4 linked regions of the Homo sapiens genome follow. The protein of the gene in region 1 interacts with the protein of each later gene in a biochemical or structural test. Each region holds a gene or a part of one and is shown in the gene's direction. Other genes may lie near its edges. The genes, in order: NFYC, ATF6B, ATF6 and POU3F2.

Region 1 (7,022 bases):
TAATAGTGATGAGCTTCAGGAAGGAAACTTTATTTCCCTTTCAAAAACCCAGAGCTTATTTTCTCTGTAATTAATGTAAAAAAGCTATGAGGGTCCCCAGACCTGTCCTGCTGTAGAGGAATGAGGGACGGATCATCACCAAATGTCTTAACCTAGGCCAAAAAGGAAAGCTTCTTGCTTTGTTGAAGAGCTGCTTGGAACCATTTGGCTCACAGCTTTTCAGTCACATTTGGGTTTCTGCAAAGAGCTCTTCCCAGCTAGAAAATTTTAACATCCCTGTAGCTGTCAGTATACCTTCTCCCACTCCTGGGACAAGGCTTTAGTTTTTCATCTTGTGATCCCTGGCTGGAGTTCTGGGGACTCCTGGAACTAGCCACCATCAGTCTCTGTAGATGAGGTTTTCCAAACTTCTGCCCAGCTGCCTTCCTCCCCACAAGCAACTTAACATTGTTGCCAGGAAGCTGCATTATAGGATTTAGGTGGGGAATTCAGGCTTGGCACCACAGCCTCCCAGCAGCTTCTCTTGGCATATTCTCAGGAAAGAAATGACTGCAGGTCCTAATACTCTTGCCCTGTCTCCTTTGAACCAGATTTTTAATGGGTTTAGATTGGGTGTCCCTCCATCTTGCCTCAAGTGGGCAATTCTGGAATGGTCTACCGTGAACTTGAGAGGTCGTTTTTTCTCGGTAGTTCAAATTCTGTGAGGCTGGAAGTCTCAGAGAAGCATTTTGATTGAACACTGCGTGCAGGAATGCAGCTTCATCCCATTAGCATTTTCCTCATGGAAGAGTCCTGCAGTGAAGTTAGCTCTTGAAGGCCAGAGGGAAATTTGCTCCAGAGCAGAGGCAATACTTGCCTGTTAGCCACAAGAAGCTTCCCCTTGCAACAAAGGCAGGCTGGGCAGCCAGGGCAGGTGGTTTCTGGACCCCGCAGATAGAGACCTAGTCTATCCATGCTCCCAGAACCCCTTTCATTTCCTCTAAATTGAGGGTGTGAATGTCTGCAGTCCTCCTCTGCTGACCATCATCTTTGCTGAGCTACAGTTCTCTGATGTGGTAACCGCCTTGGTCCTCTTTTCATCCCCAGCTCAAAACACTAATACTTTCATGGTACACTGGAGCATTAAGAGCCTGAGTTAAGGCTTTTAGCACACAATTAAATGCAGCATGTGGTATTATTGTATTATCTGAGATTTAATCGTAAGCATGAGAGACTCTAAGGGCGCTTTCGTAGCTTTGGTTTCCCATGATGGGGTTTTCTATGAAAGGTTTATTGATTCTGCTTCCCCTTGGGAGGTGTTTGGCCAGAAGCTAGTGCTGAACACCAAAGATCCTAAAAGCCCCACAGACCCCCATCCAGCCTGGCTCTTGGGGACAGAGATGGTTAAGCAGTCCAGCTTTTGCCTCCAAAATGTGCAGCATGGGGCAGGGCAGTGTGAGGGCTATGATGCGGAATGATGGCTGTTTGCTTTGGGATCCTGGCAGATGCTGGATCTCTTTACAGATGGGAGCGAAAGAGGCCCACACTTAATGTACAGGCATTCTGATGATGTCAGTCAGATAAATTCCTAAGATAAGCTGTGATCATGTAGCTAAGAGCTGGCAAATAATGAGCATGCAGCCATGCTGTTCTCACCTTTGTGACAGGATCTTCTGGGAGTTTTTTCTGAAGTCCATTCAGGGAATATATTCTCTTCTGTGCTGTGTGACTTGTGGGATGTGGATGTTCTGATTTTGCTTGTTTTGACCTCTGTTTAAAAGGGACTTTTTTCAGGGCAGGCTTCTTTGGAGGGCTTGAGGGGTAGGGGGCAATCAACATCTCTGGTCATGGAAAGTTTGCCTGTTTGAGATTATACTCAATGTCTTATGGTCTCTTTGTCTCTGCCCCTGCCCTAGGTGCAGCTGAATGCCGGCCAGCTGCAGTATATCCGCTTAGCCCAGCCTGTATCAGGCACTCAAGTTGTGCAGGGACAGATCCAGACACTTGCCACCAATGCTCAACAGGTATGTGCCCCAGAGACACAAGGCCTGTGTTGGAGACCAGGAGCAGATGGCTTCTGACAGGAAAGGAGCGCTCAGCACACAGCTGTCTTGCCACCTCATCCTTCAACCAGAAGCACCACCCCCACACCCTCCATATCCTTCTGCACCCAAGAGGCATGGGTGGTAATTGGAACATTAGATTCAAAGTGTTTTCTCTTACCATCTTGTTCTCAAGGGGCAAAGAAATGCAAGTCAGGGGAAGCCTCGAAGGTGCCTGAAAGAAACCTTACAGGTGTGCACACCCATCAGACCTGGGAAATGTTCGACAGATCGCCTGATCGTCAGGCTGTTTCCATCTTTAAACCCAAGTGGCTGTTGTGTTCTGGCACCTCCTGTGCTCTTTGGAAAGCTTACTTAGATTTTACCCCTACCTCCTCTTGCATCCCTAACCAGAAAAATTGCCCTTCTCCTCTCCTCTCGTGCCCTACAATATTGATGGCTATGAGTCACAGATGGTGAGGGGGCTGCCTCCCTGGGCTTGGGGGTGTTGAGGGACATGGGTATTACTTGCAGAAGATGGGGGGTGCTGGTCAAGGGGAGGCATTGTTAATGGATTCTTTTGCCTCAGACCCAAAAAAAGCAGCGATCGTTTAAGAGCTGGACCCGTCTGGCCCAGTTGCATTTCTGGTGATGTATCTATTGACAGTGGTGACAGAGCTGAGTTTGTAGAGCAGGTCTCCAAAGATCTCATTTGGGAAAATACGAGGAATGAGCCAAAAGCAAGGCTTCTGAGTTCCATATAGTCTCTGGGATCATTAAGGGCTGTTTCTGTGCCCACTCCCCGGCTTACCTAAGGACGCGGCTTTTCCGTAGCTGATACTGACTCACACCCTTCCCCCAGCCCCTCTTTTTAACCTCATAAGATTCTTCCCTGGGATCCAAAAAACATAACGGCATGGGAGTGGGAGGAAATGAGAAGGAAGCTTCTTGGTTCCTCAGAAGTCAGTTTGGGGCTGGGCACAGTGGGTCACGCCTGTAATCCCAGCACTTTGGGAGGGAGGCTGAGGCAGGTGATCACATGAGGTCGGGAGTTTGAGACCAGCCTGGCCAACATGGCAAAACCGTTTCCACTAAAAATACAAAATTAGCTGGGCGTGGTGGTGCATGCCTGTCATCCCAGCTACTTGGGAGGCTGAGACACAAGAATCACTTGAACCCAGGAGGTGGAGGTTGCAGTGAGCTGAGATTGTGCCACTGCACTCCAGCCTGGGCGACAGAGTGAGACTCTGTCTCAAAAAATAAAAATTAAAAAAAGTCCGTTTTGGGAACAGAACTAAAGCCAAAAAATGGGAGAGGCTGGGGAGAAGCAAGAAAGTGGTAGCTGAAGGCAATGAAAATCTTTGTAACAACAGGTTGTAATTATGACAACCTAATACTTAGTAGGTGCTCAGTAAATGTTTGTTGAATGAAGCTGAATGAATAATATGTAAATAAAATGTAAAGGTAAATGAAATCTCAGCTAATATGAATGGCAATCCTGCTGGCCACAGAGCAGTTAACCTTCTTATCTATGTGGAATATTTTCCATTTGTCTCAGGCTCACTTGTTTATTCTGCAACATTTCTGGAATACTAACTTTGTATGGGCTCCTGCCCTCAGGCATCTTATAGGCTGTTGGAAGGAAAAGGACCAAAATAAGGAACAATAGTAAAAAATAGTCATGAAGCCTGTCATACCTGTTCCCTTTCTTGTTCCTCATAGCCTCATGGGTAGGCCTGCAGGGGTTGTTTTTGGCCATGGTGAGGACATTTGAGAGGACAGTCCTTGTCTTGCAGGCTGGCTGTGATGATTCCAGGAAATGGTACACAGAGGACACTGCTGGCCAAATGTTCCATAGGAACACATGTGCATGCACACCGCAGTCTTCTTTCTAGTTTACCGAGCTGCTCCCAGCAGTTGTCATTATATATGCAGTTCTACATGTCAGTACATTTATCTAAAATCCATTCACAGTCCACACATAAGATTTTAAGTACTTGTGATAAATGTTGTCTTTGTTCCACTCCCGGTCCCTCCCCTTTTCTCCTCCCCTCCTTTGGCCCAGAGGGCTGCACAGTGCCTCTCTCGGAAAAAGTACTTCATAGGTTTGCCATGAGGACTGCTGGGACCAAGGCCACTTGCTCGCCAGGGTGTTTCATATTCCAGTCAGATGATCTGGGTGATACGGGTTTGGTTTGGAGCCCACCTTCCAAGAATGAAAGAGGCCACTTACCACTTTGTCTGACACTTTGCAGTCCGCCTTCACTGGCTGAAAGACTGACTCTTAGGACTTCTACCCCAAACCATAGCACCTAGGGTCCATGTGTTCTGTTTGAGCCTCAGAGTTTGAGATGAGTGGGTGGTTGAGGGAGTAGGCATTCATTAGAGAGATGGGTGTGGGAACTATCTATTATGTGCTCCAGGATTCTCGATGTCACTTTGTGCTGCCAACTCTTGACGTAGCCATCAGTGCTAGATTAGGAGGGGTGCTTGCTTGCTTACTACCCATTGAGCACCTGCTGGGCACTTTATATGCATTGTCTCATTTGATCTTTATGACCCTCTTTTGGGTGGTGGGCTGGTGGATCAGACCCTGCAGCTGACATACCAACTCTACCATCTTGATTCTTACAGATTACACAGACAGAGGTCCAGCAAGGACAGCAGCAGTTCAGCCAGTTCACAGATGGACAGGTAGGGTACCCAACCTGGGCTGGGCAGAGGGTGAGGATTTGCGGGGCAGGGTAGCAGGTAGTATCTGGGTTTGGATGGTTAGGGCAACTGTCCTGTCCTCTACTAACAGTGAGTGGACAGAAATTGTTAAAACAAGTACGGTATTTAAATCAGGGCACCTATCCTTTAGTTTTATAGACTTAGTGGGAACTAAAATAATCTTAGACATGTAGCCCAAATTGCCATTTTACAGATGAGTAAACTGAACCCTGGAGATGGGAAGTGCCTTGTCCATGCTCCCCTAGATGTTCATTGCAGAGCCAGGACTAGAGAGCAGGTTTCCTGTTTCCCTCTCTAGAACTGTATTTTTTTCCCCTCTAAGCCATGATGCTGTTTTAATAGCATGGACTGTTGAGACGCAGAGAACACGTGACCTCTTGAGCTCTCTGGGTGCCTGAAATTCAGTCATTTTCAGTCCATGCGAGGAGAGAATCTTCCCTTTTCCCTCTGCTTTCCCCTCACAGTACAGTCCCAGAGACCACTGAGGACATGATAGGATGACATGCCCAAACTTGTGCCCTCTGCTGCTCAAAAGGGAGAAGAGCTGGCATCAGGACCCACCTCTGGCTTCTGCCAGCACCACATGCTAGGCTTACATGCCAGGGCTCCCATGAGGGCTTGGCTTTTGGCTTCTTTGGGGAGCGCCTGGGAAACCAAGTAGTCAATTAGCCCTGACCTTCCTAAGTGGCTGTGTGAGTATCTTCTCCACCCCTGGAGCGTCTTGGCTATAGTTAAGTGTTTAATACCAGGCCACCTCCTTAGCAGGGTCCATGGAGAAAATTCAAATTCAGTTTAGTTTCAACCTGAGCCAGATATTCTGAGAAAAGAAGGAGAGGAGGGGGTAATCCTACTGCCCCTGCCAGTGTAGATTACCAAGAGTTGGGGAAATGCTGACTTCCAAGCTGCTGGTACAGTGGTTCGAATTGCTTGTGTTTGCCACAGAGGAACAGCGTGCAGCAAGCTCGAGTCTCTGAGCTAACGGGAGAGGCAGAGCCCAGAGAAGTGAAAGCCACAGGAAATTCAACTCCCTGCACCTCTTCCCTGCCCACCACACACCCCCCCTCACACCGGGCTGGTGCCTCCTGTGTCTGCTGCTCCCAACCCCAGCAGAGCTCCACTTCCCCTCCTCCTTCTGACGCCTTGCAGTGGGTGGTGGTTGAGGTATCTGGGACCCCCAACCAGCTCGAGACCCATAGGGAGCTGCATGCCCCTCTCCCAGGGATGACCTCACTCTCTCCTCTCCACCCCTCGCAGCAGCTCTACCAGATCCAGCAAGTCACCATGCCTGCGGGCCAGGACCTCGCCCAGCCCATGTTCATCCAGTCAGCCAACCAGCCCTCCGACGGGCAGGCCCCCCAGGTGACCGGCGACTGAGGGCCTGAGCTGGCAAGGCCAAGGACACCCAACACAATTTTTGCCATACAGCCCCAGGCAATGGGCACAGCCTTCCTCCCCAGAGGACCCGGCCGACCTCAGCGCCTCCTGCAGGCTAGGACACTGGTGCACTACACCCCATGCCTGGGGGCCGAGATTCTCCAGCAGAAAGATGCAATATTTTTTGTTTCCTTTTTTTCCATTTTTTTCTCTAAGGAATCAATATTTCAATATGTTGAGTGTGTGTCCAATGCTATGAAATTAAAATATTAAATAACATATTTATGGCATTTTCTTGAAGAGTGTGGTTGAAGAAATATTTCTCCTTTTGTTTTTCTTTTTTTTTTGTTTGTTACTGCCACTTCTTTTTAGGAGCAAATCTCCCCAGGGGTGTACGGTATTTCTTGACTCTGGGAACAGCTGCTACCCCCAAGACTTGCCACGTTGTTCTGCCCTCAGATGGAATTAGGTGAATGTGTGTAGCTGCTTTTTCACTCGTGGTCCTCTCCCCATCCCTTGCTCTGACCCCAGAGCTCTGTGTATTTGCATCCAGAGGCCATGGAAACATTCTTTGCATTTAAGAGACAGATTTATTCCCTGTGGAGAGTGGGTGGATTCATTGCCACACTCTTTTCTCCCAGGGACCCAGGAAACTAGGACTTTGTGTGTTTGCTGCCCACCTCCCTTTTATTTTTTAAATGCATTAAAAACTGTGCTAGTCTCCTTTGCATGGACTTCAAGCTGCATGAAATGCAATAAATCTCATTTTAGATAATTTAGAGTCTGGGTTTCTGTGTCTGGGGGCATTCATGGGGCCACTTTGCTTGGAAAGGTTCATTTGCCCTCAGTTTGTGTGTCTGGGAGAGAGGGCCACCCTTGTGAGAAGGAGATGTT
Region 2 (6,921 bases), on another chromosome or scaffold:
CTTTGGGAGGCTGAGATGGGATGATGGCTTGAGGCCAGGAGTTTGAGACCAGCCTGGTAAACACAGCAGACCCCATCTCTCTAAAAAAAAAAAAAAAAAAAGAAAAACATACGGTTTATGAACCAGCAGCATCTGCATTAACCAGCTTATTGAAATGCAGAATCACAGGCCCCACAACAGACTTCCTAAATCATAATCTGCAACTTAACAAGTTCCCTAGGTGATATGTATGCACACTTATGTTTGAAAAGCACTAAGATTTCTTGATGAAGGAGGACTTGAAAGGCAATGATGGATGTGAAAGGAAAGGTAAAGAGAAGCCTCAGGTAGTCACCCAAGGGACAGGGCCGGTTGGAGAGAGAGTCCCGAGGTTTTATCCTGGAGAACACCCTGTACTGAATGAGCTCTGAACATAAAGATAGTTAGCATAGGAGGGCCTGAAGTCTCCAGATAAAAGGCTGCTGCCACTATCATTTACCACGACCTCTGCCATTCTCCACTCTATTGTCATCCGCCCCCAGTCTCCATTCCAGGACTTCTCTACACTTTGACTTTTTGTTTGTTTGTTTGTTTGTTTGAGACGGAGTCTTGCGCTGTCGCCCAGGCTGGAGCGCAGTGGCACGATCTTGGCTCACCGCAAGCTCCGCCTTCCGGGTTCATGCCATTCTCCTGCCTCAGCCTCCCGGGTAGCTGGGACTATAGGTGCCCGCCACCACGCCCAGCTAATTTTTTGTATTTTTAGTAGAGACGGGGTTTCACCATGTTGTCCAGGCTGGTCTCGAACCCCTGACCTCAAGTGATCCCCCCGCCGCCCCGCCCCCTCCCCCCGCCCCGCCCCCCCCCGCCGCCTCGGCCTCCCAAATTGCTGGGATTACAGGCGTGCGCGATGCCCGGCTTTTTATTTATTTATTTATTTATTTTTGAGGCGGGAATCTTGCTCTGTCGCCAGGCTGGATTGCAGTGGCACCATCTCGGCTCACTGCAACCTCCGACTCCCTGGTTCAAGCGATTCTCCCACCTCAGCCTCCCAAGTAGCTGGGATTACAGGCACACGCCACCATGCCCAGCTAACTTTTTGTATTTTTAGTAGAGACGAGATTTCACCATGTTGCCAGGATGGTCTCGATCACCTGACCTCGTGATCCGCCCACCTCAGCCTCCCAGAGTCTCAGTTGCCAAAGCTGGAGTGCAATGGCGCGATCTCGGCTCACTGCAACCTCCGCTTCCCAGGTAAGCCATTCTCCTGCCTCAGCCTCCTGGGTAGCTGGGATATAGGCGCCCGCCATCACGCCGAGCTATTTTTGCATTTTTAGTAGAGACGGGGTTTCACCATGTTGGCCAGGCTGGTCTTGAACTCCTGACCTCAACCTCCCAAAGTGCTGGGATTACAGGCGTGAGCCACCGCGCCCGGCCCACCTTTTTTTTTTTTTTTTTTTTTTTTTTTTGTTTGAGACGGAGTCTCTAGTCTCGCTCTGTCGCCCAGGCTGGAGTGCAATGGTGTGATCTCGGCTCACTGCAACGTCTGTCTCCCGGGTTCAAGCGATTCTCCTGTTTCAGCCTTCCGAGTAGTTGGGATTACAGGCGCGCGCCACCATGACCTACTAATTTTTGTATTTTTAGTAGAGACAGGGTCTCACCATGTTGGCCCACTTTGACTCTTGAGCAGCCTGGCCAGCCCGACCGCGCCAAATTCTGTTCGATTCTGCCTAGTTCGGTTGCTCTGGCCTAGTTCAGTTGCTAAGGCCTGGAGCTTCATGGTTGCGGAGGAAATGATGTCACGTTCAATAGGCGGGCTAACCAGATTCCTCCCTTCTCCCGATTGGCTGCCAGGAATTTGACTAGATTCGGAGTCTCGCGGGCTCCAGGGTTAGTTGTCAGTATCTTTCCCAGTTGTTCCGCCCCCTACCCCCGCCTCCCGCACCGCGCCCCTCTCCGGCTGCCCTCTCCGCGTGGGGCAAGGCTCCGAGGGCAGCATTCAGTAGCCATTTAGCTTTGGAAGGAGAGGTGATTCGAATGGCCCGGCTCCTCCTGTCACCATGCTAGGCACTTTGGCCGCGCAGGTACTTATTGACCCGACCGGGTGTCCGTAGTTGGCGCGGCTACCTTAACCGCAGGGAATTGTGGAATTTATAGTTCTAAATTATATGTGGGTGGAACGGGGAAGCTGGAGCAGATTTTTGGAGGAAAGCAAAACTGGGGACTTTCAGGACTAGGGGCCTGGGTCTCAGAAGAATGGGAAAGGACGAGAAAGGAGTCTAAATAAGAACCCTGCTATTAGCATTGTTTGGTTTTCTTTTCAGGTGCTGACCTGAACCTGGTTCATCCCTTTCTGACCAAAACTGTTCACTCACCGTGGAAGGGACTAAGCATCCATATGGAGACGCCACCAGTCAATACAATTGGAGAAAAGGACACCTCTCAGCCGCAACAAGAGTGGGAAAAGAACCTTCGGGAGAACCTTGATTCAGTTATTCAGATTAGGCAGCAGCCCCGAGACCCTCCTACCGAAACGCTTGAGCTGGAAGTAAGCCCAGATCCAGCCAGCCAAATTCTAGAGCATACTCAAGGAGCTGAAAAACTGGTTGCTGAACTTGAAGGAGACTCTCATAAGTCTCATGGATCAACCAGTCAGATGCCAGAGGCCCTTCAAGCTTCTGATCTCTGGTACTGCCCCGATGGGAGCTTTGTCAAGAAGATCGTAATCCGTGGCCATGGCTTGGACAAACCCAAACTAGGCTCCTGCTGCCGGGTACTGGCTTTGGGGTTTCCTTTCGGATCAGGGCCGCCAGAGGGCTGGACAGAGCTAACTATGGGCGTAGGGCCATGGAGGGAGGAAACTTGGGGGGAGCTCATAGAGAAATGCTTGGAGTCCATGTGTCAAGGTGAGGAAGCAGAGCTTCAGCTGCCTGGGCACTCTGGACCTCCTGTCAGGCTCACACTGGCATCCTTCACTCAAGGCCGAGACTCCTGGGAGCTGGAGACTAGCGAGAAGGAAGCCCTGGCCAGGGAAGAACGTGCAAGGGGCACAGAACTATTTCGAGCTGGGAACCCTGAAGGAGCTGCCCGATGCTATGGACGGGCTCTTCGGCTGCTCCTGACTTTACCCCCACCTGGCCCTCCAGAACGAACTGTCCTTCATGCCAATCTGGCTGCCTGTCAGTTGTTGCTAGGGCAGCCTCAGTTGGCAGCCCAGAGCTGTGACCGGGTGTTGGAGCGGGAGCCTGGCCATTTAAAGGCCTTATACCGAAGGGGGGTTGCCCAGGCTGCCCTTGGGAACCTGGAAAAAGCAACTGCTGACCTCAAGAAGGTGCTGGCGATAGATCCCAAAAACCGGGCAGCCCAGGAGGAACTGGGGAAGGTGGTCATTCAGGGGAAGAACCAGGATGCAGGGCTGGCTCAGGGTCTGCGCAAGATGTTTGGCTGATTAAAAGTTAAACCTTAAAAGAGACAGGAACTTGTGAATTGTGGTCTGTGCTGTGAGATTTGGGGGTGGGGGGCCAGAGGGAAGGTTTCAGCCCATATCCCATTCTCAGCTTTTGGCTTCCTAGGGGAGGTAGCAGTGGTCACAGTGCGCCCCTTTTGAGGGGCTTATCTATCTCCGAGGACACATAGAAGCTGTCTAAACTAAACTTAGTAGTGGCTGGGGGAGATGGTGGACCTTAATACTGGGTACTACATCTCCCAGGCGCTTTATCACTGGAGCCTGTTTGGCGCATGCGCTTGGCGGTATGGCACTGTCTGGAAGTTACTTCCTGCTGCTGTGCTCCCATTGGGCCCGCCTACACAGTCATCCGCATCTGTTGATTCACGTGCTCAGCACCCAGGTCTCTTACTGGTCGGTAGAGCTTCCGGGACGCCCCCTTTTTTGAAAGAGTCAACTGATTAGTTGGTGATGGGGAGAGGCGGGCCTTGGGAACCGTCTCCTGGTTGGGGGGTGGGGGGGAAAGATGGCGGAGCTGATGCTGCTCAGCGAGATTGCTGACCCGACGCGTTTCTTCACCGACAACCTGCTTAGCCCGGAGGACTGGGGTCTGCAGAGTGAGGCACCGGGGAGGGGAGAGGGCTGTGGCAAACTGTCCCTGAGGCACGCGGGAAAGAAGCGGGGGCCTAAAGAGGAAGTCTGGGCAAATACGGAATCCGCCATCTGAAGGAGAGCGGAGCAGGGGGCTCGTTGTGCATTAAGGGGGATACAAAAGTCAGGGAAGAACTCTGCTCCCTGCTGGAACGTCGAGTTGTTCCGGGGTCGGGGAAGGAGGGGCTGAAGCGCCCTGGTTGTATCACTTTTCAAGTGGGCGGGCGGTGGGTCTGGCCGAGCGGAGCCAATGAGGGATGGGGCGGGGGCTTGTGTGCGATCTGTAGGCTGGGGCCACCGAACGACCCCCCGACGCTCAGCATTTCTTGCAGACAGCACCTTGTATTCTGGCCTAGATGAAGTGGCCGAGGAGCAGACGCAGCTCTTCCGTTGCCCGGAGCAGGATGTCCCGGTATTGTGTCCCCAGCCTTTCTCTAACCCTTGGTGGGTGGAAAGTGAGCCCAGAACCTGGACCCATTCACAGGCCATAACTCATCTGGAGTCACCCCTACTTTCTCATCCTTTCTCACACTCCTGCCCTCTTGTATCCTCCCTTATTTAGTTTGACGGCAGCTCCCTGGACGTGGGGATGGATGTCAGCCCCTCTGAGCCCCCATGGGAACTCCTGCCGATCTTCCCAGGTAAGGTAGTCTTTGTCGTTCCCTCAGATTTCCAGAAACCCTCATCTTCCCACTGTTTCCCAGAAACTACGTAGCTTCCTATATCCTCACGCTTCTACATAAGTGCCTATCCTCTCTCCTTCAATCCCCTATTTTTGTTTCTTCTCCCTTGCTGCGGTACAGGAATCCCCACCGACATGTCCTTGGGTACTTTTTGGACTCTTCTTAAGCTCTGCTTCCTGATAATTTCTAACTCCCTTTCCTCCAGATCTTCAGGTGAAGTCTGAGCCATCTTCCCCCTGCTCTTCCTCCTCCCTCAGCTCCGAGTCATCGCGTCTCTCCACAGAGCCATCCAGCGAGGTGAGAGAGCCATATCCCTCTTACTCTCTGTGACGGGGACTCTGCTTCATTCCCTTCACCCGTGGGTGACAAAGAAATGATTTAAATGATTTGTGTGCTATGAGTCATGAGGTGTGTGAGGTGTGGGGGGCCTTCTCCACTACCTTTGCCGTTTCCTTAATATCTTCATTTTCCACATCCCCTTTGGTTATCTAGCAGTGAAGATTTTTTTGTTTGTTTGTTTTTTGTTTTTTGCTTTTTTTTGAGATAGGGCCTCCCTCTGTCACCCAAACTACAGTGTAGTGACAGGGTCACAGCTCACTGTAGCCTTGACCTCCTGAGCTCAGGTGATCCTCCTGCCTCAGCCTCCTGAGTAGTTGGGACCACAGACACATGCCACCATGTCTGGCTAATTTTTTTTATTGTTTGTAAAAATGGGGTCTTCCTATGTTGCCCAGAGTGGACTTAAACTCCTGGGCTCAAGTGATCCTCCCACCTTGGCATCCCAAAGTGCTTGGATTACAGGTATAAGCCACCACGCCTGATCTTGGGTCTTTTTAATATAAAGAGTTATGTGGGGCTGGGAAGAAGAGAGTTATTGACTGCTGAGAATTCTGGAACTGTTCTTGCCCAAGTTGTCCACTCTGAGGCCATATTTGAAGTCATGAGACTTCATCAATTCTCCCAGAAATAAAGTAGAAAGAATGAACAGGTTAGAAAGATGGTCAGTACCATTCAGACCAGAATGTCAAATAATTGATGGCTTGTAAGCCCTAAACTTCTAAAGCTTTTGTTCTCGCTCTTACTGTCAACATCTCCCTTGTTTTTTGCCCTTCTTTCTGCCCCCTGCCCCACACCAACTCTCACCCAGGCTCTTGGGGTAGGGGAGGTGCTCCATGTGAAGACAGAGTCCTTGGCACCCCCACTGTGTCTCCTGGGAGATGACCCAACATCCTCATTTGAAACCGTCCAGATCAACGTTATCCCCACCTCTGATGATTCCTCAGGTAATAAAACAGCCTGCCCCCAATCCTTGGCTCTACTACGGGAGAATGTGTTATGTGTGTGTGTGTATGTGTGTAGATGGAGGGGAAGTGCAGGCAGCAGGACAGGGAGAAAAAGGTGGGGAGGGGAAATGGCAGAAAACCAGGAGGGAAGGCAGGAAGGAGAGGAAACATTTCAGGGAACCACAGCAAGGGCAGTGCTGAGGAGATGGATATTATTTTTCTCTCTTTTTCTTGTTCCTAGTATTCTGTCATGCCATTCAACTTACTTTTTAAAAACTTGTGAGCAGTTTAGGGCATATGTATCTGTGTGATTCCCCTCCACCCAACATTTTATTATAAACATTTTTGTTGTTGTTGAGACAGAGTCTCACACTGTCGCTCGGGCTGAAGTGCAGTGGTGTGGTCTCAGCTCACTGCAACCTCCACCTCCCAGGTTCAAGTGATTCTCCTGTCTCAGCCTCCCAAGTAGCTGGGATTACAGGCACCCACCACCACGCCCAGCTAATTTTTTGTATTTTTAGTAGAGATGGGGTTTCACCATGTTGGCCAGGCTGGTCTTGAACTCCTGACCTCATGAGTCGCCTACCTCCGCCTCCCAAAGTGCTGAGATTACAGGCGTGAGCCATCGCGCCCAGCCCATAAACATTTTTAAACATACAGAAAGGCTAGAACACCATATACTAAACTAGATTCTACAATTAACATTATTTGTTCTATTTTTAAAGTGTTCCCAAGTTTATTTACTCGTAGCTGTGTATTTAGTAAATGTTTATTGATGTGATCATATCTGAGGTATAATAATTATAAAAAAGAAATATTTATTAAGCACCTACTCCATGCCAGATACTGAGCAGCATGCTGGGAATGCAAAGATGAACAAGAC
Region 3 (7,077 bases), about 120 Mb from region 1:
GCTACAAGTCAGCTATCATAACAACAGATTGATAAATTTGACTACATTGAAATTAAAATCTAGAGAACAAATCACCGTAAACAAAGACGACAAGTGTCAACCTGGGAGAAGGTATTTATAACATATACCAAGCGTTAACTTAAAAAAGCCCAACAATGGGCTGGGTGCGGTGGCTCATGCCTGTAATCCCAGCACTTTGGGAGGCTGAGGCAGAAGGATAGCTTGAGCCTAGGAGTTTGAGACCAGCCCGGGCAACAAAGCGAGACTCTGTCTCTCTCTCTCTTTTAAAAATGTATATATTAAAAAGCCCCACAATGAATAAATTTAGAAAAGAAGGGGAGACTTTATGGCCTGCAAGGTGGCCATCCTGCAGGCTGGGAAGCGTGCCTCCAGAAACAGGCGCTTTGAAGGAGGAGGGCTTGGAGTGTAGTTCAGGCTGAACAGGTTGGCTAAACCTACATTTTCACCAGGTTACAGGAAGAGCTATGAATATTCATGAAAGTGGTCCTGACACATGCGTATTGAACAAAAACTCATGTAACATATGACCCATATTCACTTTGGGATGGAGACTTAACTTTTTTGTTGTTGTTGTTCAGACGGAGTCTTGCTCTGTCACCCAGGCTGGACTGCAACGATGTGATCTCAGCTCACTGTAACCTCCACTTCCCGGTTTCAAGCGATACTCCTGCCTCAGCCTCCTGAGTAGCTGGGATTACAGGAACCTGCCCCCACGCCTGGCTAATTTTCGTATTTTTAGTAGAGATGGGGTTTCCCCATGTTGGCCAGGCTGGTCTCAAGCTCCTGACCTCGTGATCTTCCCACCTGGGCCTCCCAAAGTGCTGGGATTACAGGCGTGAGCCACCACACCCAGCCAAGACTTAACATTTAAATGTATTACGAGCCCTATACGTCAAAAGGTCTTTCAGGACATGAAGCCATGCAAATGTGCGACCTCTGTAGACCAGCCAGAACCAGTCCATGGCCAGTGGTCTTCTTACCTGGAGAAAGTTACTGAAATCAACAAAAAGTTGTCCAATGAAAGCTGTAGCTATGGCTGGTGGAACGGGGACTGGGGGTCAGTAAGTCAGCATCTCGTGGAGCTGCACATTATTTTAATATTGTTTATCTTTAGGCCAGTACTTGTTTAGCTGCTAGAGAAGAATCTTGTGGCAGTTAGAACACAGTTTATTCTTTAAGTATAGGGGTGTGGGACTAAAACCTTGCCTGGAATGGCTTTAGGTCTTTTTTATAATTTGGCATCTTATTGCCAGAGTCTGTTCTGTCAGTCTTATCATCTCTGTTTTAACATTAATGCTGGCCAGTTGTTGTGTTAAACTACAAAAGGGAGGGAGTATAACAAGGTGTGTCTAACCTGTCCCATCGTGGTCTAGAACTCAGTTTTAAGGTTTTCTAGGATCCCCTTGGCCACAAGGGGGCCTATTCTGTTGGTGGCGGACTTAGGAGTTTAGTTTTACTTTATACAGGTGAATGAATAGAGCAGGCTATCTAATGACGTACACATCATTTGTGAAAGAAAACTCCATAGCAAACTTTATAAAAGGTAAGAGTGGACAGTTCACAGAAGAGGAAATAAGGTTTCATAAGTATGGAAGAATGCACCACTTTGTTAGGGAAATGTAAATTGCAATTTTCACAGCGGTAAAAATGGTAAGAGTCTGACCATATCTTGTGTTGGAGAGAATGTGGAACAAAGAGAACTCATCAATGCTAGTGAGGGTGTAAACTGATAAAATAGTACATACATTATTTAAGACATTCTTGAGGCTGGGTGCGGTGGCTCACGCCTGTAATCTCAACAGTTTGGGAGGCAGAGGCGGGCGGACTGCTTGAATTCAGAAGTTTTGAGACCAGCCTGGGCAACATGGTGAAATCCTGTCTCTACAAAAAATACAAAAATTAGTCGGGTGTGGTGGTGGGTTCCCGTAGTCTCAGCTATTGTGGGGAGAGGCATGAGGATCGCTTAAACCTGGGAGGTCAAGCTGCAGTGAGCTGAGATGGCTCCACTGCAATCCAGCCTAGGGGACAAAGTGAGCCCCTGTCTCAAAAAAAAAAAAAAAAAAAAAAAGAGGGAGAGAGAGAGAGAAATTGAGATTCATTCAAGGAAATACCATGGGTAGATCCTTAATATCCAATAAGAAAAATGATTTGGAGAACATTAAAGTTTACATACATTAAAAAAACCCAAATGACACTAAATGCATGTGTCTATAAACATGTTTAAGCACCGTAAAACTAAAAATAAAAGTGGACTAGAATTACACTTTTATTTTTATAAAATAAAATTTTATACCCATAAAATTCATGGTAGAAGTGGCCTACGCCAAGGGAGGAAAATGAAGCAGGGAGGAAAGAGGAATTCAATTCTGTAGTATTTAATTTCTTATGAAAAATCTGGGACAAAAATGAAAAATGTTAAATTTTTAAATTCTTGGTGATAGGTCACAAATGTTTGTTTCATAATTACTTGCACTTTTTGAATAAAAATAAAATCTTTTGGAAATTAAAAAAATTGGCGATTTGTCATGGTGATTTTCTTAAAAGACTAAGGTGTCTAGTGGGATACAGAAGACTCGATGATTTTATTTTATTTTAGGTTTTTTTTTTTTTTTTTTTTTTGAGACGCAGTCTCGCAATGTCGACCAGGCTGGTGTGCAGTGGTGCGATCTCCGCTCGCTGCAACCTCTGCCTCCCGCGTTCATGCGATTCTCCTGCCTCAGCCTCCCGAGTAGCTGGGATTACAGCTACTTGCCCGCCACCACGCCTGGCTAACTTTTTGTATTTTTAGTGGAGACAGGGTTTCACTATGTTGGCCAGGCTGGTCTCGAACTCCTGACCTCGTGATCCGCCCGCCTCGGCCTCCCAAAGTGCTGGGATTACAGGCGTGAGCCACCGCGCCCGGCCTTATTTTAGTTTTTTATGTCAATTTTTGAATTTGTAATTGGGTGAGAATTAAAGTGTTATAAATTTCACCTTAAGTGAAAATTTATTAGTTTTCTAATGACAAAAGTAGTTACATCTGACGTAAGGGGATTTAATTATCTTTTTCTGGGCTTGCGTCCCGGAACGCTGCTGCATTATGTAATCTGTAGTAATATACCCACGAGCAGTTTGGAGGGTTCTGGGAAGCACATTTGTTTTGCTTACCTACCATGGGAAAGATTCCACGTGGTCCTAGAAGCATACGTATTCGTCGGTTACAGTATTTTAAATATTCACTGGCCGCTGAAATTTAAAATGGATGAAAAAGAAATTCTCTTAAGTAGCGTTCTTGAAACTGCTTTATCAAACTCAGTTCATATTTTCAGTTGGAGTTCGTGATGTATGTGATTTTCCTTTAAATAAAACCCGAATCTTTAGTAATACAAATATTGGGAACTTCGATTACTGTAGGTCTTAGGGTAGACTCGCTTGGACTTTGACTAAATACTATGCTTTAGAAATTTATCTTTAGGAGATAAATTTGGGGGGTTTATCTTTTTATATTTGCTTTGTTTCAATTTATTTAAATAAAAGTAGTCTTTCTAGAAGTATGTTTTATAGTACCACTTACCTCGGTTACTGTCCCAGTTAAGCAGTTTTCACGAATGTGGAAAAATAGTAGTGTTTTTCTTTCATACACGCGTATATGAAAAATTTTTACATTGATAGAGAATTATTCGTAAAAATTAAAGTAAATTTACTGTTAGTCTCTAATTTTGTTCTGAGATAGCCACGCTGTGGCATTAAGAAGGATAATCAAGGAATAAGCCATAATGTTCAGAAAGGGGCTTTACTTTTTATTTTTAATATTATTGATAAACTTTGTTTAGTCGAATTGATGTCTGCGTGTCTTCCCCCGCCTTCCCCATAAAACAGCGGGACAGAAAGTCCTGAAAACTCCAAAAGGGAAATATTTACTCAGAGGTCTATTCAAATTTGCTTAGTCTCTGACGTTTTCCTGTGTCGTACAAATCCCTCGTGCGGCAAAAGTAGTTTGTCTTTACTAGGCCACCGTCTCGTCAGCGTTACGGAGTATTTTGTCCGCCTGCCGCCGCCGTCCCAGATATTAATCACGGAGTTCCAGGGAGAAGGAACTTGTGAAATGGGGGAGCCGGCTGGGGTTGCCGGCACCATGGAGTCACCTTTTAGCCCGGGACTCTTTCACAGGCTGGATGAAGATTGGGGTGAGTGGGATCTGAGAATGTACCAGGGTGGCTCGGGTTCGCGTCTAAAGGTTTCTTCCTCCCTACTTCCGCCCACTCGTGGTGACAGGTGTGGACCAACCCTGCCTGGGGAGTGAGGCCCCTCGTCACTCCTGTTCGTGCCCCTGGAAGAGTCTGGGAGTATCGTTCGGCTTCTGTCCTGGCCACAGGGAGAGTAGAATATTGTCTAACTGGAGTTAACTGTCGTTTTTCACTATTCCCACTGGGGAAGTACCGGGTGATCTTTTTGTGTGGCTAACACTGGACGTCTTTAGGAGGTTTAGAGCAAAATGGCTGGGACCGCCAAAAAGGCTACAAGCTATTTCCTGAGTGTGAAATGTGGGCGGTGAGCACAATGGAGTGGGTTTTTGTGTGTTTGGTGTATATGAGAGAATGTGGTTATATACAAGAAATTCTAATCTTACAGCTTTTACTATTGGTTTAAGCCTGATGTCCGTCTTGGCAGAAAAGCAAAACACCCAAGCACCTGACCTCGGGTCCCTGCTTAGCTACACCTAATACTTATGGTGTAATCCTGACTGCTCTCCAGATACAGCTCTTAATTTTCTTGTTAATGGATATTTTGTTTGGTTTTGGTGGTCAGGAAGGGTGGAATGGGATGAAGTGGAAATGAGAATGAAGAAACTTTGTTATCTAAGTATTTAGAGGAGACTTTTATTCTCCTCTTGATTGCAAGATATAATAGTAATATTGTTCTTAGGTTCCAATATGAATTTGGGATTGTGTAGGTTCCCAAATGGGCCCGCTAGTGAGCCTACACCACTCATCAGCCTTGGAACTGGGGGGAACCCAGTTTATCTTTCTCCCTTGGATCAGCATTCTCAATAGCAGGAGTGGAAGGAATCTCAACTTTTTATTGAACAAAGTCATTTAATTGTTTCAAGGACAGATGTTCTCTAAAACTATATTCTATTGGAGATTTATTTTAATCCTTGGGTAGATTTTTTAAGAGTTGCTGGAAAACTTAAGATTTTTTATTCCCATTTTCCCAAGCCAAATGCATTAGTGACAGTAACCATTTATTTAGCTCTTTGTGTCAGGGACCCTGTTAAACTCTTGACATGAAGTATTTTGTTTAATCCTACCAACAGTCCAATGAGGTACTGTTTATTTTAGAGATGAGGAAACTGAGGCTAACAGAATTTGTGCTCAGATTCTTAGAGCTAGTTAGTGGCAGAAGAAGGATCAGACCAGGTTTTTCTACCTCCAAAGTCTGTACCCCTAGCATCTATTCTATAATGCTTTCCTAACTCATGTCTACAGATTTTATTCTTCCTAAGATCCCTGGTTATTAATAAGACTACTTGAATATATTGGGTAGTTATGATTTATTTTGTCAGCTAGTCAGCTATTATATTTTCATGACATTTCTTTTCTTTACCTCTTTTTTTGAGATGGAGTTTCGCTTTTGTTGCCCAGGCTAGAGTGTAATGGCGCAATCTTGGCTCACCGCAACCTCCGCCACTCGGGTTTGAGCGATTCTCCTGCCTCAGCCTCCCGAGTAGCTGGGATTACAGGCATGCACCACCACGCCCGGCTAATTTTGTATTTTTAGTAGAGACGAGGTTTCTCCATGTTGGTTAGGCTGGTCTGGAGCTCTGGACCTCAGGTGATCCGCCCACCTCGGCCTCCCAAAGTGCTGGGATTACGGGTGTGAGCCACTGTGCCCGGCCAGTGACATTTCTTAAAGTATAACTGTGGGACACTTCCTGGTAGCATAATTTTATGTCGTCTTCTGATACCCAGGCTGCATTTTCCAGACTTATCTGATCACTTGACTTAATGTTCTCTAACAGAGCATTCAGTTCTTTGTAGTCAGTTCACCGACTCACTTCTATCGGGTATCCTGCCCTGTCCCTCCCTGAATGTGCCCATTTCCATTGTTTTCCAGGTTTCCCTTTTCAAACTGTTAACAGTCTTCTCTTCTTTGAAGACTTTAATTTAATTCCTTAGGTGTTCAGTAAGTAGGATAGATTTTGTTGGCAATAGAGTGAAACACTACTGTCTGATAGTGTTTCGTTCTGTGACAGTTGCTGTTTTGGATGTTCAAGTACTTCACTGATTTACTTGATTTTGTTGTTGTTGTTGTTGTTTCTTTTAGAGACAGGGTCTTGCTCTGTCGCCCAGGCTGGAGTGCGGTGATGCAATCATAGTTCACTGTGACCTGGAACTCCTGGGCTCAAGTGATCCTTCCATCTGAGCCTCCTGAGTCGCTAGGACTACAGGTGCACACCGCTACCATGCCTGGTTAATTTTTAATTTTTGAATTTTTTGTAGAGACAGGGGTCTTGCTGTGTTGCCCAGACTGGTCTCCAACTGGCCTCAGTCATCCTGCCTCAACCTCCCAGGTGATGGGATTACAGGCTCAAGCCACTGTGTCTAGCCTTGATTTTTTTTTAATATTAGACACTATCTAGTTAAAATTTAAAAATCAGATTATGTAATTAGTATGTCCTGTGATTTTAACAACTCTAAATAATTTAAATAAAGTGATTAACTCAGAACAGCCTGTGAGGGATGTGCTTTCCTTTTTCTTTTTAACTTAGGTAATGAAATTTAGAGCAAGAGTCTTCAAACATTTTCTGTAAAGGTTCAGATAGTAAATATTTTAGGCTTTGTGATTACATGGTCACTGTTGCAACTACTCAAGTCTGCTGTGATAGTGCAGGAGCAGCCAGAGACAGCATAAACAAGTGAGCATGGCTGTGTTTCTATAAAGCTTTATAGACACTGAAATTTGAATTTCACATAATTATTTTAAATAATAAGCCTACTTTTTTAGTATAATTATAGATTTACACAATAATTGAGCAGATAGTACAAAGAGTCCACATACTTCCCCTTCATCCCC
Region 4 (7,985 bases), on another chromosome or scaffold:
CCCTCCTAAGGCCTCATATTCACCGCTCAGGATTTAGCAGGCTTCCTTTGATAAATTACTCAAAGTAATCCTTGAAACAGCTAGACTATCTGGGTGACATGGTGTTAGATGTCTTCAAGCCATCCCTGTATATAAAATATTCACTTGCAGACTACAAAGGGGGGACTGTTTTAATGATAAAATTTATAACTTGAAGAAAAAGGGAAAGATATTAGTATCTATAAATACAGATAATTTTATTTCAAATACTGAATTAAGGACATTATATTTCACTGGTTTACACAGTAGTGAAGGTAAAATAGAATTGTTTGTATGTGAGGTATGGACAGAGTTGCCAAGCATATGACGTAGGAGAGTTTCAACTTTCAGAAAACTTTTCATTCTTCAAGACCTTTTATTACACAAGGACAGATGCACATTTAGGAATTTGCAAAATATAGGTATAGACAGTAACATACAAATTTATTGGAAGCTTTATTTCTTCAGGAAAAAATATGCTGCTGCATAATTAAAGATAGTAAGTTCTATCCTTTTTTTTTTTTTTTTTTTTTTGGTAAATGTTTATTATGTCTCTCCCAAGAACCAGCAACTTGGAAATGCATTTTCCATGTTCCTTATAAATGCATCCCCCAAGGCTAAAGTTCTTGAAGCTTTATAGCAGTTTTCATTAAAGCAGCCAGCTGCCTTTTTGTGTGGATTGGCTGTTCAAAGCTCTAGCTCCGAAGCCAGAGCCTCAGTTTTGACATTCTGCAGGCCCTTAGAAAAGAAGTTCCACTCAGAGGTTGGAGGGGGGCCTCACCAAATCAAACAGCTGCTGGGGTCTAGCAGAAGAGCAGGAAGCACAGGAATGAATGACTGAGACAAGGCTTTTTAAAAAGAGGAGGAGGAGTAGGGACGTTCAAACATGATCCTCTAAGGTGGATATAAGAAAAAGGAAACAGCAGTTTCTTTTTCTAGTTTTACTTAGGTTTAAACCAGCTGCTACCTCCACTCCCCCAATGGCCATCTCCTCAGAAAATTCTTTGTTTTCTTTTGTTTCCTGATTTCTATTATCCTGGGACTACATAAATAAGAAAAAATTAAGATCAAATGAATACCATTTCACCTCTGTTTTAGTAATTGTGTGCCTCCAGCTCAATGTATGGGAGTGGTCACGGTGGGTTTTCTGCCAACTCCTGGTATATAGAAATAAATAAATGCTATTTTATATATGGTGTGAGTGTGTTTACTAGATGAAATAGTTAATAAATTAGAGTTCAAGTTACAGTGCATGGACTGACCCCATAACTGTTACTCAGGTGGAAATTTGGGAGGTTTGTGTCAAGGTACTGGGTGCTACTAAGACCCAGGTCCGGCTCACTATCTCGAGGAGTGTGAAAGTGTGAGAGATAACATGGGTGTCTTTTTGGTGTAGTTCTGTTATTCGAGGATGTTTCCCCTCCACTCAGCGCACCCCGGCAAGAGGGAGTCGGCTCCGTTTCTTCAGACAAGTCCAGCTCAGGGTATTGACTGAGTAGAGGTTCCTCCGGACCTGGGAGAAGCTGGGGTGGCGCCAGCATCTCCTTACAGGTGCCTCCATCCTGTCCTTGCGGAAGGGGCTTAGGACACCCCGCAGTCCGCGCCCCGAGGTGGCGAGGCCCGCACGAATCGCCTGCTCAGCCATTGTCCTAGCGAGTGATCTCGAGGAGCTGTGCTGGATGGAGTGAGGGAGATATCAAGACACCTTGTCAGTTCAAAGCATTTTAGCGTTGTTTGAAATCCTCTCCACGTCAACGTAAGCAGCCTGTGTATTTGAACAGCTGCTTTGAACAGTGAAAGGGAATAAACTGATTCAAAACCTGGAGGTGTCTGCCCGAGACACCTTCAACGTGCTTTTATGCGGGCGGAGAATGGCAGGCAGACGCGCGGACTCTGCCCTGACAGGGTCAGCCCAAAGAATGGGCCCCAGAGCCCGGGGCGGGGGAGGAACCGGTGGAGAGGCCCCAGTCTGGACCTAAAACCAGCGAGAGCTCAGGTTTCGGGAGCCCCGAAGAGGTGCCGCGCTGGGAGGCAGACAAGGAAGCCCAGGGTGCTCGGAACCCGGCGTTCGCGCCAACCGGGCCCCTGGCGCCTGGAGGGGAGGCGGCGGTAGCTCGTGGGGAGGTGTTGCTCAGAGCCGCGGTGCGAGCCCAGCCTGGCCCGCCCGGTGATTGGCCGCGCTTGGGGGTGGGGGTGGGGTGCAGAGACTGAGGCCCCGGGTAGGCTATTTCTTTGTGTACTCCCGGGGATTTATTGGGTATATTAAACCCTGTTGGGAACGTTTCGGCTCCTTGGCCGCCAGCGAAATGAGACGGGGATGGAAGTTGGAGTTGAGACCTGGGAAGTCAACGTGGGAAGGATCTCAGCATTAATCGCCGGTGATGTCCTATCGCAGACAGGAAGTTTTGATGTACACGTGCAGCCTATTCTTGTCCCCTCACACTAGCGCCCTATGCCGGGAGGAGGGCGGGGGTGTGGGGTGGGGTGTGGAGAGAAAGATAAGAGGAGGAGGAACTTTTAAATTGATTCAGAGCCAGGCCGCCTCAGTTCCTTCGAAGATGTGTTTGAAAACTTCATTCTTCTTTCGAGTGTATCATCCTATGGGCTGCAGAAGGCCTTGTGCCTCGAGAAATGTGAAATTAAATCCAGAGAAAAGCAGACACCTGCCCCAGAAAGGTGGGGGAGAAGTATGAGCTGCTTAGCACTTGGACGCGGCCCTTCCCCAGGGCTGGATTCTTCTGTCCGTGGGAGCTCTGAGCTCCAGGTCCGCGAAAAGAAAGGCACGACATGTCAGGAGAAGATGCGGCTGGCGGGCTGTCTGTGCGCTCCCCAAGGCCCAGGGAAAGTCACGCGCCTAGCACAGGGGACGCAGGGCCGAAGCCGGGAGAAGGCGGTTCTGCCCGCCACCCAGCCCCTTGGCTCGCGGTTGCGGAGCCGCGGGCACCAGTCGCTGAGTCTGCGCGCTGAGGCTCGGACTTGTTCATTTTTTCCTAGCTAGACAAAGTTATGGGATTCCTAGCAGCCCCCAGGCGCGCGGCCAGAGTGGCCCCGCGCTTGCGCTGGGACGGAGCGACACGCTGTGTGTGTCCTCGCCTCGCCTCGCCGCGCGGGTGCGCGCGTGGTGGGGGTGCAGGTCCGTCCTGCTGGCGGCCTGTGGGCTCGCCCCTCCCCTATCCATTTCTCTCCCCCACACACGCTCATAAACACAGGACACGTGGAAATTCTCAGCCAAAGCGTCTTGCCCGGGCGGGTGCTCAACGTGGTGATTTATAAACAGCTCAGCCACTCTCCAAAGAGCATGACTCCTTGTTAGTCATGATGAATTTTCTGGCCCGCTCCAGTCTGCTGTCTGGATTCAGATGCTCAGAGGCCCCAAAATGCTCCCTCTGAGCGTTGATTTGGCTGCCCTCTCAAGCCTACGACCGCCGGCAAAACCAGCGATAGAGCGAGGGGTGAGAGGTGGGGACGCGATCCAGGTTCCCTGGGGTCTGTCATTCCCTTCCCGGCAGTAACTGTTGATTCGCTTTACAGCGCCCATGTACACACCCGGCCCTGCGTGGCGGTCACGCCGCTCCAGCCTGGGTCCGCGCCCAAGTTCTAGCTACCGGGCTTGCAGGCTCGGAAACTCGCAGGCGGCACCTGCTCTGGGCGGCTAAAGAACTGATGGCGCGACGCGCCCGCGCTCCGTAGAGCGGCGCTGCGGGTGCATGGTCCCATAGTCTTGCTCTGGAGTTCACTGCTGAAAGCTGAGCTGGGAGCTTGGCCAGGGAGCGCCAAAGACATAGACTAACCCCACCCGCTAGCGCCCACCGAAGTTACTGATTAGGAAGGTTCCCCTGGCATCAGCCCATTTGCTTCACACACTCTTCCTCCTTCCCAAGGGGCTAACGGAAAAGTTGCACCTACCAGCGGTAGGAGCACGGGGAATCGCGCACGCAGGCCCTCCGCGCGGCTTCCCGGAGCGGCCTTTGGCGACTGCGCCGCCCCTACAAGGCCGCACACCCCTCGCCAGCACTCCGGCAGCCTCGCACAAGACGGAGCCCACGCAGGCTTCTAGTTTTCTAAACCAAAAACTGCACGCGCCGGCGTGTGAATCTGACGGAGAGACTTTTAGAGTTTTGTTTGGTTTTCAGTTCAGACCGCTACGCTGTCAGAGCAAGCAACTCCGAGCCTTGATGGGAATGACTTACAAGCCGCGGTGCGGGCTGAGCCTGCCTCTCTCGGGGTTCTTTCCCCAAGGGAGTGGGAGACAATTGGGCCTGGAACCTAAAAGGAAGAGAGCCTGTGCTAGCCGCGGGGTAGAGGGGAAGGAGAAGAGCTTTGGGCCGAAGTGTCCGCACACCCTGGAGCAAGAGACACTTGTGCACTGAAATTCTAACCGTGGGATGCAAGGAGAGTTGAACAGGGGAACAGGTCTGGCTCTTGGCTCTAGGTTTAAGAGATACACACTGTGTGTGTGTCCCTAGGTGAATAAAAATCCGACTCCCGCTGGCTCGGTGCGACCCAGCTTTTCCCTTACCCCCTCCGTTTCCCCATCTTAAAGCCCTATTGGGAAACGAAAGTGGACACCACTGCCTCCCGCCCCCCACCCCAATCCAAGTCTTCCAAGTGTCTGTGGCCGATAAGAGCACCGGGACCGCCCCCCTGCCGGTCTTCTCTGCCTGGGAGACAGATGGGGGGCGGGGCCCATCCGAGAGAGGGCGGAGGAGGCCCCGGGTGAGGAAGAAGCGGGGGGGTGAGAACTGAGAGAATCTGAATCGGGAGGCGAAGGGGACGGGGAGGAGGGCTAGGAGGACTCCGAGCCCGGGGGAGGGGGAGGGAGTAGCTCTGCGCCAATCAGTGGCGCCGGCCTGGGAGGTTGCTAGCGGTATCCACGTAAATCAAAGGGCGCGGAGCCAATGGGAGGGGGCGGAGGGGGCGGGGCCCAGGCGCGTGCCGCTGCGAGCCGGCGCTGCCAAGAGAGCGGGAGAGAGCTGGAGAGAGCAGGGAGAGGGGGGAGCGCCGAGCTAGTCAGAGAGTGAGCGAGAGCGAGAAGGAGGGAGAGGAGGAGAAAGAGAGCGAGGGCGGGCGGGAGGCGGCGGCGGCGGCAGCAGCAGCAGTAATAGCAGGAGCAGCAACAGAAGGCGTCGGAGCGGGCGTCGGAGCTGCCCGCTGTGGGAGAGAGAGGAGACAGAAAGAGCGAGCGAGGAGAGGGAGCCCGAGGCGAAAAAGTAACTGTCAAATGCGCGGCTCCTTTAACCGGAGCGCTCAGTCCGGCTCCGAGAGTCATGGCGACCGCAGCGTCTAACCACTACAGCCTGCTCACCTCCAGCGCCTCCATCGTGCACGCCGAGCCGCCCGGCGGCATGCAGCAGGGCGCGGGGGGCTACCGCGAAGCGCAGAGCCTGGTGCAGGGCGACTACGGCGCTCTGCAGAGCAACGGACACCCGCTCAGCCACGCTCACCAGTGGATCACCGCGCTGTCCCACGGCGGCGGCGGCGGGGGCGGTGGCGGCGGCGGGGGGGGCGGGGGCGGCGGCGGGGGCGGCGGCGACGGCTCCCCGTGGTCCACCAGCCCCCTGGGCCAGCCGGACATCAAGCCCTCGGTGGTGGTGCAGCAGGGCGGCCGCGGAGACGAGCTGCACGGGCCAGGCGCCCTGCAGCAGCAGCATCAGCAGCAGCAACAGCAACAGCAGCAGCAACAGCAGCAACAGCAGCAGCAGCAGCAGCAACAGCGGCCGCCGCATCTGGTGCACCACGCCGCTAACCACCACCCGGGACCCGGGGCATGGCGGAGCGCGGCGGCTGCAGCGCACCTCCCACCCTCCATGGGAGCGTCCAACGGCGGCTTGCTCTACTCGCAGCCCAGCTTCACGGTGAACGGCATGCTGGGCGCCGGCGGGCAGCCGGCCGGTCTGCACCACCACGGCCTGCGGGACGCGCACGACGAGCCACACCATGCCGACCACCACCCGCACCCGCACTCGCACCCACACCAGCAGCCGCCGCCCCCGCCGCCCCCGCAGGGTCCGCCTGGCCACCCAGGCGCGCACCACGACCCGCACTCGGACGAGGACACGCCGACCTCGGACGACCTGGAGCAGTTCGCCAAGCAGTTCAAGCAGCGGCGGATCAAACTGGGATTTACCCAAGCGGACGTGGGGCTGGCTCTGGGCACCCTGTATGGCAACGTGTTCTCGCAGACCACCATCTGCAGGTTTGAGGCCCTGCAGCTGAGCTTCAAGAACATGTGCAAGCTGAAGCCTTTGTTGAACAAGTGGTTGGAGGAGGCGGACTCGTCCTCGGGCAGCCCCACGAGCATAGACAAGATCGCAGCGCAAGGGCGCAAGCGGAAAAAGCGGACCTCCATCGAGGTGAGCGTCAAGGGGGCTCTGGAGAGCCATTTCCTCAAATGCCCCAAGCCCTCGGCCCAGGAGATCACCTCCCTCGCGGACAGCTTACAGCTGGAGAAGGAGGTGGTGAGAGTTTGGTTTTGTAACAGGAGACAGAAAGAGAAAAGGATGACCCCTCCCGGAGGGACTCTGCCGGGCGCCGAGGATGTGTACGGGGGGAGTAGGGACACTCCACCACACCACGGGGTGCAGACGCCCGTCCAGTGAACTCGAGCTGGGGGAGGGGCAGAGCGCGGGGCTCCCCCTCCCCTTCGGTCCTTGGCCCTTTCCCGGCCCTCTTGTTCCCTCTCTAACTTCTGATTGTTCTTTTATTTTTAATTATTATTTCCCCGTCCCTTAAAAAGACAAAAAAAATAAGGCAAAAGGAAAGCAACTAAGACACTGGACTATCCTTTAAAGGTAGCAGGTGTAATGATGTGTTTTGACCTTTGCAGGCGAGTAACCAGGCAATGGAGTGGAGTGTCTCCTGGAGAGAGTGAGGAGAGTGTGTGATAGCTAGAAAGAGAGAGAGACAGAGAGATGGCAAGCACTGAGATAAATACCTGGCAAAACTAAATAAATTACCAAAAAGGAAAAAAAATCCACCAAACCATGATAAACACAAAATGCAGCTTCCTGATGCTTAGAGTTGGCACATGCTGCTGTGTTTATTTATTGTGGATTCCCATCAGGAAAGAGGAAAAAATACACATGTTCTTTCATATAGGCAAAATTTAACCACATAAATTTGCACTGCAAGAAAATTGAAGTTTACGTGAACAAATTCATGAGCATATTTTCTCTTTCTCCCCACCGTTAATTTGGGAGTTGCCGTTTTGGGGGATTTTGTTTTGCTTTGCTTTATTCATCGGAGAGAGTTGAAGCCAGCTCTTGGCCACTCTCCATTTCTAATGTTCTTGTGTTGCCCCTTCTTCGTACTGTTTGTGAACTTTGGTTACCTTCACATTCCCCTTACGAGGGTGTAACATCTATTTGTTCCTCTTACCAAAGCAAAAGGATTGGCTTCATACAAAATAGACAATTCTCTGATTTCAGGAAATGTGCATGGTCTACCCGCTTTATCGAAGGCAAGAATCCGGTTTGGAATATAAAAATAAGCATTGGTTGTTCTTACCAGCCACAAAGTAAACTTCATTTTCAGGCAGTGTTTCTGGGGGAGGTTATGGAGGGAAGAAAAAAGAAAAATCGATAGTGAGTGACTGATTGCTTCATTTTATCAGGCGGGCCCATTGTGAAAGAGCTCAGGGGAAATGTGGAGGTTAAATATATTTCCAGAGTTGTCCAGCAGAAAGAAAGTGGCACTTTGAAGAGAACTAGGGAAGTACATATCTTCAGATATCCCTATATAGTTCTCTACCTTCAGTTTTAGTAACAATTATGAAGAATTATTTGTGCTGACAGCAGCAGTTAAACTTTGTTTCTCTAATAGCTTTTTTTTTACATAAAAAAAGACCCAGGAACTTAATAGTGTATGCATAAGACTGTGTTTTTTAGCACACAGATACCCACAGCATACACTGACGATCTCCACGCAGTAGACAGGTTTTGTCTTCACTAGCTCATTTGTTTATCAAG

Evidence for each region.
Region 2: the proteins of NFYC (region 1) and ATF6B form a complex in vitro, tested with the Homo sapiens proteins (one study listed by BioGRID).
Region 3: the proteins of NFYC (region 1) and ATF6 form a complex in vitro, tested with the Homo sapiens proteins (one study listed by BioGRID).
Region 4: the proteins of NFYC (region 1) and POU3F2 form a complex in vitro, tested with the Homo sapiens proteins (one study listed by BioGRID).

What each region holds. Positions count from the first base shown.
Region 1 is NC_000001.11:40,764,701-40,771,722, forward strand, and holds the end of NFYC (nuclear transcription factor Y subunit gamma), read left to right. Parts: intron 1-1,895; coding exon 1,896-2,003; intron 2,004-2,217; coding exon of another isoform or gene 2,218-2,274; intron 2,275-4,655; coding exon 4,656-4,715; intron 4,716-5,696; coding exon of another isoform or gene 5,697-6,008; coding exon 6,009-6,128; 3' UTR 6,129-6,903; downstream 6,904-7,022. UniProt on the Homo sapiens protein: Component of the sequence-specific heterotrimeric transcription factor (NF-Y) which specifically recognizes a 5'-CCAAT-3' box motif found in the promoters of its target genes.
Region 2 is NC_000006.12:32,125,234-32,132,154, reverse strand, and holds the start of ATF6B (cyclic AMP-dependent transcription factor ATF-6 beta), read left to right. Parts: upstream 1-3,908; 5' UTR 3,909-3,947; coding exon 3,948-4,038; intron 4,039-4,404; coding exon 4,405-4,484; intron 4,485-4,634; coding exon 4,635-4,713; intron 4,714-4,960; coding exon 4,961-5,052; intron 5,053-5,902; coding exon 5,903-6,038; intron 6,039-6,921. Other genes in the region: FKBPL (FK506-binding protein-like), read left to right, coding at 2,375-3,424.
Region 3 is NC_000001.11:161,762,256-161,769,332, forward strand, and holds the start of ATF6 (cyclic AMP-dependent transcription factor ATF-6 alpha), read left to right. Parts: upstream 1-4,064; 5' UTR 4,065-4,105; coding exon 4,106-4,187; intron 4,188-4,193; exon of another isoform or gene 4,194-4,551; intron 4,552-6,772; exon of another isoform or gene 6,773-7,077.
Region 4 is NC_000006.12:98,829,589-98,837,573, forward strand, and holds the start of POU3F2 (POU domain, class 3, transcription factor 2), read left to right. Parts: upstream 1-4,985; 5' UTR 4,986-5,285; coding exon 5,286-6,617; 3' UTR 6,618-7,985.